Linked DNA regions of Homo sapiens: region 2 is linked to region 1. The links come from fine-mapping of genetic effects on gene expression. A gene starts in region 1. The other region holds a variant in brackets. All regions are shown on one strand. Distances are from middle to middle. Region 1 holds the start of HSD17B14 (hydroxysteroid 17-beta dehydrogenase 14). Region 2 holds the start of PPP1R15A (protein phosphatase 1 regulatory subunit 15A).

Region 1 (5,366 bases):
CCTGGCCAACATGGTGAAACCCTGTCTCTACTAAAACTACAAAAATTAGCCAGACACGGTGGCTCATGCTTGTAATCCCAGCACTTTGGGAGGCTGAGGCGGGCGGATCATCTGAGGTTGGGAGTTCGAGACCAGCCTGACCAACATGGAGAAACACCGTCTCTACTAAAAATACAAAATTAGCCAGGTGTGGTGGCACATGCCTGAAATCTCAGCTACTCGGGAGGCTGAGAGAGGAGAATCACTTGAAGCTGGGAGGCAGAGGTTGCGGTGAGCCGAGATCACACCATTGCACTCCAGCCTGGGCAACAGGAGCGAAACTCTGTCTTAAAAAAAAAAAAAATTAGCCGGGCATGGTGGCGCACACCTGTAATCCCAGCTACTCGGGAGGCTGAGATAGGAGAATGGCTTGAACTCGGTAGGCTGAGGTTGCAGTGAGCCGAGATCACACCACTGCACTCCAGCCTCAGTGACACTTACAAAAAAAAGAGACAGAAAAATCAGTTCCAGTTGACCCACTTTGAGGGACTTATTCATTTCCATCCACATGTTAAATGTGCTAAGAGCCTTGGAGAGGTGTGACAGAAGGAACATGTGACCTGCCCATCAGTCACAGAAGACCTTGTGTGTGGAGTGACACTGGGTGGAAACCTTTGACGAGTCCAGCGGAGCCAGGAGAGGAAGGAAAAGTAGAGGGAAAGGCATATGCAAATGGCTGGAGGAGAACAAAGAACTGGTCATTAGCGGAGATGGGGGTAGGAACAGGAACTCGGCTTACCTTCACATCATCTTCCTGAGTCACATCACAGAGGATAAAGACAGCTCCAGGGAGCTCCTGCTCCAGGGCCCGGCCCCCAGACTCTGCAGGGAGAGAAGAGCTGGGAGCCTGGACCCCTGGGTCTCAGGGAGGAGGGGTTGGGGACTTGGACTCCTGGGTCTGAGGGAGGAGGTGCTGGGGGCCTGGACTCCTGGGTCTGAGGGAGGAGGGGCTGAGGTCTGGACTCCTGGGTCTGAGGAAGTAGGGCCTGGGGGCCTGGACTCCTGGGTCTGAGGGAGGAAGGGCTGGGAGCCTGGACTCCTGGGTCCGAGGAAGTAGGGCCTGGGGGCCTGGACTCCTGGGTCTGAGGGAGGAAGGGCTGGGAGCCTGGACTCCTGGGTCCGAGGAAGTAGGGCCTGGGGGCCTGGACTCCTGGGTCTGAGGGAGGAAGGGCTGGGAGCCTGGACTCCTGGGTCTGAGGGAGGAGGGGCTGGGAGCCTGGACTCCTGGGTCTGAGGGAGGAGGGGCTGGGAGCCTGGACTCCTGGGTCTGAGGGAGGAGGGGCTGGGGGCCTGGACTCCTGGGTCTGAGGGAGGAGGGGCTGAGGTCTGGACTCCTGGGTCCGAGGAAGTAGGGCCTGGGGGCCTGGACTCCTGGGTCTGAGGGAGGAAGGGCTGGGAGCCTGGACTCCTGGGTCTGAGGGAGGAGGGGCTGGGGGCCTGGACTCCTGGGTCTGAGGGAGGAGGGGCTGAGGTCTGGACTCCTGGGTCCGAGGAAGTAGGGCCTGGGGGCCTGGACTCCTGGGTCTGAGGGAGGAGGTGCTGGGAGCCTGGACTCCTGGGTCTGAGGGAGGAGGGGCTGGGGGCCTGGACTCCTGGGTCTGAGGGAGGAGGGGCTGAGGTCTGGACTCCTGGGTCCGAGGAAGTAGGGCCTGGGGGCCTGGACTCCTGGGTCTGAGGGAGGAGGTGCTGGGAGCCTGGACTCCTGGGTCTGAGGGAGGAGGGGCTGGGGGCCTGGACTCCTGGGTCTGAGGGAGGAGGGGATGGGGGCCTGGACTCCTGGGTCTGAGGGAGGAGGGGCTGGGAGCCTGGACTCCTGGGTCTGAGGGAGGAGGGGCTGAGGTCTGGACTCCTGGGTCTGAGAAAGTAGGGCCTGGGGGCCTGGACTCCTGGGTCTGAGGGAGGAGGTGCCAGAGCCTGGACTCCTGGGTCTGAGGGAAGAGGGGCTGGGAGCCTGGACCCCTGGGTCTGAAGGAGGAGGGGTTGGGGACTTGGATTCCTGGGTCTGAGGGAGGAGGTGCCGGAGCCTGGACTTCTGGGTCTGAGGGAGGAGGGGCTGGGGACCTGGACTCCTGGGTCTGAGGGCAGAGGGGCTGGGGGCCTGGACTCCTAGGTCTGAGGGAGGAGGGGCTGAGGTCTGGACTCCTGGGTCTGAGGAAGTAGGGCCTGGGGGCCTGGACTCCGGGGTCTGAGGGAGGAGGTGCTAGGGGTCTGGACCTCTGGGTCTGAGGGAGGAAGGGCCAAGGTGAGGGCTGAGGGACCGTCACTCACCATCCTTGTCGCAGATAACCACTCGGGCCCCGCTGTTCACTGAGAATAGGAAGGGAACAGGTTACTCTCCGAGCCTTGGTTAAAGCCTCTGCCGCCCTCTTGTGGCCACCTGGATTGGGGCTGATCTCCCTCTCCCCTCGTGACCCCAGTCTCATGATCACCCATAGGACAGAGGGCAGACGCCTTGACACATACTCTCCTTGCCTTGTTTCTGCTGAGGCTCCTGAACCCCCGTTCGTGGCTTCCGGAGCAAACTCCACGACTGACAGAGCCATTCCTCAAACCACTGGTTTTGTAGCTACACCAACAGACCCAGAGAAAGGGGCCACTGCCTTCGGAGACCCTGCCAGACTCAGCCCTAGCCTACAGCGCCACACGCTTACTTTAGCCTGCAAATTGGCTTTTATAATATCAGAATCCTGGCTGCAGTACTGGAGTCCCTATTTTCCGCCCCCATCACCCCGCCCCCATCCTTCCTTTCTCACACTCCACAGCTCCCAGCAGTCAGACCCGGCTCACCGAAGGCGCGCACGATCCCAGCTCCGATGCCGCGCCCGCCCCCGGTCACGACCACCACCTTCCCGGCATAGCGCGTTCCCGTAGCCATCCCGTGTACGTCGGTCTCTCTCTCTCTCTACTCTGGGCCTCTTTCACCTCCAAAGCCCCGTGAGGCCGTCGCATCAAATCCTCAATAGAGGCTGGATCCTGGAAGTCCGGCCTCGGGGGGCGTTGCCAGGAAGGCTAGAGACCTGGAAGTTTGTCCCCAGCCCCTCCTCCCTCAGACACTCCTCTCTTCCCACAGACCCAGGAATCCAGGAGCCCCAGTCCCTCCTCCCACAGACCCAGGAATCCAGAAGCCTCAGTCCCTCCTCCCTCAGACTCGGGAGTCCAGGCCCCCAGCCCCTCCTCCCTCAGACTCGGGAGTCCAGCCTCCCAGCCCCTCCTCCCTCAGACCCGGGAGTCCAGCCTCCCAGCCCCTCCTCCCTCAGACCCAGGAGTCAGGGTCCCAGCCCCTCCTCCCTCAGACCCGGGAGTCCAGCCTCCCAGTCCCTCCTCCCTCAGACCCAGGAGTCAGGGTCCCACCCCTTCCTCCCTCAGACCCGGGAATCCTGGCCCAGCCCCCTCCACTCTCAGACCGAGGGATCAGGTTCTCTATCCCTTCTTCCCAGAGACCTATAAGTCCAAGCCCCCTGTCCCTTCCTCTCTCAGGACCCAGGAGTCCACGACTCCAGCTCTGCCCCTCAGAGACACCAGTGCCACAACCCCAGACAGACAGAAAGAAAGCTATTGACTAAAAGTTCAAAGTTTTAATCCAAATTTAGACAGTGTTGAGAAAACCAAACTTTGGCCATAGAAACCATTCCCCTCCCGGGCCCGCAATGGGGACCAGACCACGCCCCCTGATGCCCTGAGTGGTCCCAGATCTCCGGCGGTACCTCCAGACCACGTCCTCGCGCTCCGATTGGCTGCCGCTTTTGGGCGGATTAGAAGCTGGATTGTAGCAGAGTGACTCGCAGAGGCCATGCCCCCTCGTCTTGTGGCAGGACCGGAGGGGCGATCCCGGCATCCCACGCGGGCCCCCAGGGGGTGGGACCTCCTCCACGCCCACTCCCTCGGCGAGAGAACCCCGTGGAACCCGAATTAGCCACCGGGGGAGATCTGGGGGGAGGGGTCTCCTGGCGCGTGGGGTCCGAAGGAGGCAGCGGCACACCGGGAAGAGGGTCTCCCTGGGAGTCCAAATTTCCACCTGGAGAGGATGAGTGGGACATGAGAATGGCAAACCTCAGCGCTAGGACCCCGGATTCCCAGCCCCTCCTCCCTCAGACCCAGGACTCCGGATTCCCAGCCCCTCCTCCATCAGACCCAGGAGTCCAGGCCCCCAGCCCCTCCTCCCTCAGACCCAGGAGTCCAGGCCCCCAGCCCCTCCTCCCTCAGATCCAGGAGTCTGGATACGCCAGTCCAGTCCTCTTTGAGACTCAGTTGTCGGCCCTCTCCCCGCCCCCTGACCTCTTCCTCCCCTCCTCCCAAGTGTCCCGGACCCCAGTCACCTCTTGCCTGAGACCTAAAACTCCCAAACCCTGCCCAACTCTTTACTCACCAAGATAAAAAATTCTCACCGGCCCCCAGACCCCTCCTCTCCAGGACCTGGGATTCCAGGTCTCCAGCTCTCTCCTCCCTAAAACCCAGAAGTCCAACATCCCCAGCCAGTCACCTGTCATCATTCTGTGCCACTGCGACGCCTCAGTAGCCAGGGCTTGGGAGAGGCTGAGAACCCGCTCCCGGTGACCTTCGGAAGTCGGCAAGTAAGGGGTGGTGTTCCTTGGACTAGAAAAAAAAAGAAGATTGGGGGTGGGGGTGTGTACATGGGGGAGAGGTGGGGGATGGTTAATTGGTACAAAAAGAAAAGGATGAATAAGACCTACTATTAGATAGCACAACAGAATGACTATAGTCAATAATAATTTAATTGTACATTTTTAAATAAATTAAAGGGTGTAACTAGATTGTTTATACATCAAAGGGTAAATCCTTGAAAGGGGATGGATACCCTATTCCCGATGATGTGCTTATTTCACATTGCCTGCCTGTATCAAAACATCTCAATTATCTCGTAAATATATGTATACCTAGTATGTACCAACAAAAATTAAAAATTAAAAAAAAAAAAAAAAAAGCAGGCCAGGTGCGACAGCTTATCCCTGTAATCCCAGCACCTTGGGAGGCCGAGGCGGGCGGATCACTTGAGGTCAGGAGTTCGAGACCACCCTGGCCAACATGGTGAAACCCAGTCTCTACCAAAAAATACAAAAAAGTTAGCCAGGCATGGTGGTGGGTGCCTGTAATTCCAGCTACTAGGGAGGCTGAGGAAGGAGAATCATTTGAACCCAGAAGGCGGAGGTTGCAGTGAACTGAGATCACGCCATTGCACTCCAGCCTGGGAGACAGAGCAAGACTCCGTCTCAAAAAAAAAAAAAAAGTAAAAAATAAAAATAAAAATAAAAAATAAACAGCTGGCACAGTGGGGACCCGGGTACCGCACGTGCCTTTCTGGGAGTTGT
Region 2 (5,358 bases), 37 kb after region 1:
GCCTGATCTCATAGTGCTTACATCCTCATTCTCATTTGCAAGGAATCTGGACCCTGCTGTGACTATCTTGGTCAAGTGGCTTCATTTCCAAGCCTGTTTCCCCATCTGTGAAATGGGAACAATGACACCCTCGCACTCGGGGAGGAAACCAACCACATGTGAAAATAGGAGACTCTAGCCAGGCGTGGTGGCAAGCTCCTGTACTCCCAACTACTCAGGAGGCTGAGGCAGGAGAATTGCTTGAACCCGGGAGGCGGAGGTTGCAGTGAGCCAAGATCATGCCATTGCACTCCAGCCTGGGTGACAGAGTGAGACACCGTCTCAAAAAAAAAAAAAAAAAAAGAAAGAAAAAGAAAAAAGAAAGAAAAGAAAAAAAAAAGAAAATGGGAGACTCTAGGCTGGGGCCTGTGGGCTAAATTGGGGTAGGAGGCCAGGCACAGTGGATCACAACTGTAATTCCAGCACTTTGGGAAGCCAAGGCGGGCAGATCACCTGAGGTCAGGAGTTCAAGACCAGCCTGGTCGGCCGGGTGCGGTGGCTCACACCTGTAATCCCAGCACTTTGGGAGGCCGAGGCGGGTGGATCACAAGGTCAGGAGATCGAGACCATCCTGGTTAACACGGTGAAAAACCCCGTCTCTACTAAGAATACAAAAAAAATTAGCCGGGCGTGGTGGTGGGCACCTGTAGTCCCAGCTACTAGGGAGGCTGAGGCAGGAGAATGGCGAGAACCAGGGAGGAGGAGCTTGCAGTGAGCCAAGATCGTGCCACTGCACTCCAGCCTGGGCGACAGAGCAAGACTCCGTCTCAAAAAAAAAAAAAAAAAAAAAGACCTGCCTGGTCAACATGGCGAAACACTGTCTCTACTAAAAATACAAAAATTACCCAGGCATTGTGGCACATGCCTGTAATCCCAGCTACTCCAGAGGCTCAGGCAGGAGAATCGCTGGAACCCAGGAGGTGGAGGTTGCAGTGAACCGAGATGGCGCCACTGAACTCCAGCCTGGGCGACAGAGTGAGACGCCTACTCAAAAAATAAATAGGCTGGGTGCAGTAGCTCACGCCTATAATCCTAACACTTTGGGAAGCCGAGGCAGGCAGACTGCCTGAGCTCAGGAGTTCGAGAACAGCCTGGGCAACATGGCGAAACACTGTCTCTACTAAAAATACAAAAAATTAGCTGAGTGTGGTAGTGCGTGCCTGTAATCCCAGCTACTCGGAGGCTGAAGAGGGAGAATCGCTTGAACCCGGAAGATGGAGGTTGCAGTGAGCCGAGATCACGCCATTGCACTCCAGCCTCGGTGACAGAGCGAGACTCCATCTCAAAAAAAAATAAAAAAATAAAAAATAACAAATAAATAAATAGGCCTGGAGTGGTGGCTCACGCCTGCAATCCCAGCACTTTGGGAGGCCAAGGCAGGCAGAACACCTGAGGTCAGGAGTTCGAGACCAGCCTAGCAAACATGGTGAAATCCCGTCTCAGAAAAATAAATAATGAATAAATAAATAAATAAATAGGCCGGGCGCGGTGACTCACGCCTGTAATCCCAGCACTTTGGGAGGCCAAGGCGGGAGGATCCCCTGACGTCGGGAGTTCCAGACCAGCCTGACCAACATGGAGAAACTACGTCTCTACTAAACAAATACAAAATTAGCCGGGCGTGGCGGCACATGCCTGCAATCCCAGCACTTTGGGAGGCCAAGGCGGGAGGATCCCCTGACGTCGGGAGTTCCAGACCAGCCTGACCAACATGGAGAAACTACGTCTCTACTAAACAAATACAAAATTAGCCGGGCGTGGCGGCACATGCCTGCAATCCCAGATACTCGGGATGCTGAGGCAGGAGAATCGCTTGAACCCCGAAGGCGGAGGTTGCGGTGAGCCGAGATCGCCCCTTTGCATTCCAGCCTGAGCAACAAGAGCAAAACTCCGCCTCAAAATAACTAACTAAATAAATAAATAAATTGGGGTGGGAAGGCATTGACCCTGAGCTGAGAGAGAACTGGCTCGCTGTTGAAGCAGGGCCACGCATTTGATTGACAGTTCGTTTGTTGGAGGGGCGTGGTCACGCTCGGAAACTCCGCCGTGACGTTGCAAAAGCTGGAATCTCCGCGAGAAGTCCTGTCTTACTTCCACTTCCCACCCTTCGGGTTGCGGTCTCGAAACCCCGCCTCTCTTCGTGACGTCAGCACGCCGGGCGCGGTAGGCTATAAAAGCCTAGTGGCCATTGTGTTCGTTGCTCTTATCGGTTCCCATCCCAGTTGTTGATCTTATGCAAGACGCTGCACGACCCCGCGCCCGCTTGTCGCCACGGCACTTGAGGCAGCCGGAGATACTCTGAGTTACTCGGAGCCCGACGCCTGAGGGTGAGATGAACGCGCTGGCCTCCCTAACCGTCCGGACCTGTGATCGCTTCTGGCAGACCGAACCGGCGCTCCTGCCCCCGGGGTGACGCGCAGCTCCCAGCCGGTGAGTAAGGGGTCGGAACGCCTGGGTCCCCACGGGGCTGGGGGCCCGGATTTAGAAAGGAGAAGGGGTTGGGAGCCTGGAGTCCTGAGCCTGAGGGAGGAGGGATCTGGAAGCCAGATTCTTGGGTCCCCCGTGAAGGAATCATCTGCCAAGTAGGGGGTCGGGTCAGAATGTTTCAGTCTGCGAGGGAGGAGGGTGTGAGGGTTTGATTTGTCAATCTTCAGCAGAATGAGAGAGCTAGGGACTATGACTTTGTCGCCAAGGGAAGCAAGTAAAGACTTTTGTTCTTGGTTCTTGGGACTGGGAGTTCTGCGTCTGAAGAAAGAGAGGGCTGGGGGCTTGGACCCTTGGATCTAAGGCAGA[AC/A]TAGGGGCTCAGACTCCTGGCTATTGAGAGATAAGAACAGAGCCAAGGGACAGAGATGGGCGTGGCCGAGATCAGAAAGGAATTTGGGACTCTCGCGTTGCTATTTACAATAGTTGTGTTACTATTTCCGTTGCTATGACTCATAGTCACGCCCGGATGCCATCCTCTAAATGGCCCCTAAACTTTATTTTTTTCTCCCCCTTTTCCAGCCCAGACACATGGCCCCAGGCCAAGCACCCCATCAGGCTACCCCGTGGAGGGATGCCCACCCTTTCTTCCTCCTGTCCCCAGTGATGGGCCTCCTCAGCCGCGCCTGGAGCCGCCTGAGGGGCCTGGGACCTCTAGAGCCCTGGCTGGTGGAAGCAGTAAAAGGAGCAGCTCTGGTAGAAGCTGGCCTGGAGGGAGAAGCTAGGACTCCTCTGGCAATCCCCCATACCCCTTGGGGCAGACGCCCTGAAGAGGAGGCTGAAGACAGTGGAGGCCCTGGAGAGGACAGAGAAACACTGGGGCTGAAAACCAGCAGTTCCCTTCCTGAAGCCTGGGGACTTTTGGATGATGATGATGGCATGTATGGTGAGCGAGAGGCAACCAGTGTCCCTAGAGGGCAGGGAAGTCAATTTGCAGATGGCCAGCGTGCTCCCCTGTCTCCCAGCCTTCTGATAAGGACACTGCAAGGTTCTGATAAGAACCCAGGGGAGGAGAAAGCCGAGGAAGAGGGAGTTGCTGAAGAGGAGGGAGTTAACAAGTTCTCTTATCCACCATCACACCGGGAGTGTTGTCCAGCCGTGGAGGAGGAGGACGATGAAGAAGCTGTAAAGAAAGAAGCTCACAGAACCTCTACTTCTGCCTTGTCTCCAGGATCCAAGCCCAGCACTTGGGTGTCTTGCCCAGGGGAGGAAGAGAATCAAGCCACGGAGGATAAAAGAACAGAAAGAAGTAAAGGAGCCAGGAAGACCTCCGTGTCCCCCCGATCTTCAGGCTCCGACCCCAGGTCCTGGGAGTATCGTTCAGGAGAGGCGTCCGAGGAGAAGGAGGAAAAGGCACACAAAGAAACTGGGAAAGGAGAAGCTGCCCCAGGGCCGCAATCCTCAGCCCCAGCCCAGAGGCCCCAGCTCAAGTCCTGGTGGTGCCAACCCAGTGATGAAGAGGAGGGTGAGGTCAAGGCTTTGGGGGCAGCTGAGAAGGATGGAGAAGCTGAGTGTCCTCCCTGCATCCCCCCACCAAGTGCCTTCCTGAAGGCCTGGGTGTATTGGCCAGGAGAGGACACAGAGGAAGAGGAAGATGAGGAAGAAGATGAGGACAGTGACTCTGGATCAGATGAGGAAGAGGGAGAAGCTGAGGCTTCCTCTTCCACTCCTGCTACAGGTGTCTTCTTGAAGTCCTGGGTCTATCAGCCAGGAGAGGACACAGAGGAGGAGGAAGATGAGGACAGTGATACAGGATCAGCCGAGGATGAAAGAGAAGCTGAGACTTCTGCTTCCACACCCCCTGCAAGTGCTTTCTTGAAGGCCTGGGTGTATCGGCCAGGAGAGGACACGGAGGAGGAGGAAGATGAGGATGTGGATAGTGAGGATAAGGAAGATGATTCAGAAGCAGCCTTGGGAGAAGCTGAGTCAGACCCACATCCCTCCCACCCGGACCAGAGGGCCCACTTCAGGGGCTGGGGATATCGACCTGGAAAAGAGACAGAGGAAGAGGAAGCTGCTGAGGACTGGGGAGAAGCTGAGCCCTGCCCCTTCCGAGTGGCCATCTATGTACCTGGAGAGAAGCCACCGCCTCCCTGGGCTCCTCCTAGGCTGCCCCTCCGACTGCAAAGGCGGCTCAAGCGCCCAGAAACCCCTACTCATGATCCGGACCCTGAGACTCCCCTAAAGGCCAGAAAGGTAGGTGCTGAGAGCCCAGATTCTATTTTTTTTTTTTTTTTAATTGAGTTGGAGTCTTGGGCTGTCACCCAGGCTGGAGTGCAGCGGCATGATCTTGGCTCACTGCCAACCTCTGCCGCCCAAGTTCAGGCGATTCTCGTGCCTCAGCCTCCAGAGTATCTGGGATTACAGGCGCATGACACCACACCCAGCTAATTTTTTTTGTATTTTTAGTAGAGACGGGGGTTTTGCCATGTTGGCCAGGCTGGTCTCAAACTCCTGACATCACGTGATCCACCCATCTCAGCCTCCCAAAGTGCTGGGATTACAGGCGTGAGCTACCACATCTGGCTGAGAGCCCAGATTCTTGAGTCTTAGAAAGAAAGGGGGCTGGGGGCCGAGACTTCTGGGTCCCTGTATGTTGCAGAGGGTTGCATGTCATCTCCATGGAGAAGGCTGTGTACGCTGTCACGCAATCCCTTGTAAGAGGCCAGGCCCCTGGGGGAGGAGGGAGCAGCTGTGGCTCACAGCAGCCCCAGGAAACCACCTCTTCCTTCAGTGAGTCAGATAGATAGAGAATCCCGTGACAGTGACAGGCAAGTGACTAGCCAGATAGAAAGCATTTTTGTGTAATAACTAATTTTTGTTTGCTTCTCTCTCTCT

What was found.
Region 2: its variant is fine-mapped to the expression of HSD17B14 in stomach (GTEx, PIP 0.91).

Annotation. Positions count from the first base shown.
Region 1 is chr19:48,833,498-48,838,863 of GRCh38, forward strand. HSD17B14 (hydroxysteroid 17-beta dehydrogenase 14) reads right to left here and starts at 2,994. Exons shown (of 9, transcript NM_016246.3): 1 at 2,827-2,994; 2 at 2,308-2,346; 3 at 779-861. The coding sequence starts at 2,914. It overlaps PLEKHA4 (pleckstrin homology domain containing A4), which reads right to left. Exons shown (of 20, transcript NM_020904.3): 19 at 4,520-4,632; 20 at 3,600-4,054. The coding sequence ends at 3,792. RefSeq lists silencers at 3,902-3,971, 5,361-5,366.
Region 2 is chr19:48,870,183-48,875,540 of GRCh38, forward strand. It overlaps PPP1R15A (protein phosphatase 1 regulatory subunit 15A), which reads left to right and starts at 2,239. Exons shown (of 3, transcript NM_014330.5): 1 at 2,239-2,469; 2 at 3,043-4,716. The coding sequence starts at 3,052. RefSeq lists enhancers at 1,184-1,796, 1,797-2,408, 2,067-2,126, 2,237-2,346, 3,007-3,096 and 5 more and cis regulatory regions at 1,886-2,459, 2,646-3,146, 3,306-3,806, 4,186-4,706. The variant AC/A (reference allele first, on the strand shown) is at 2,833.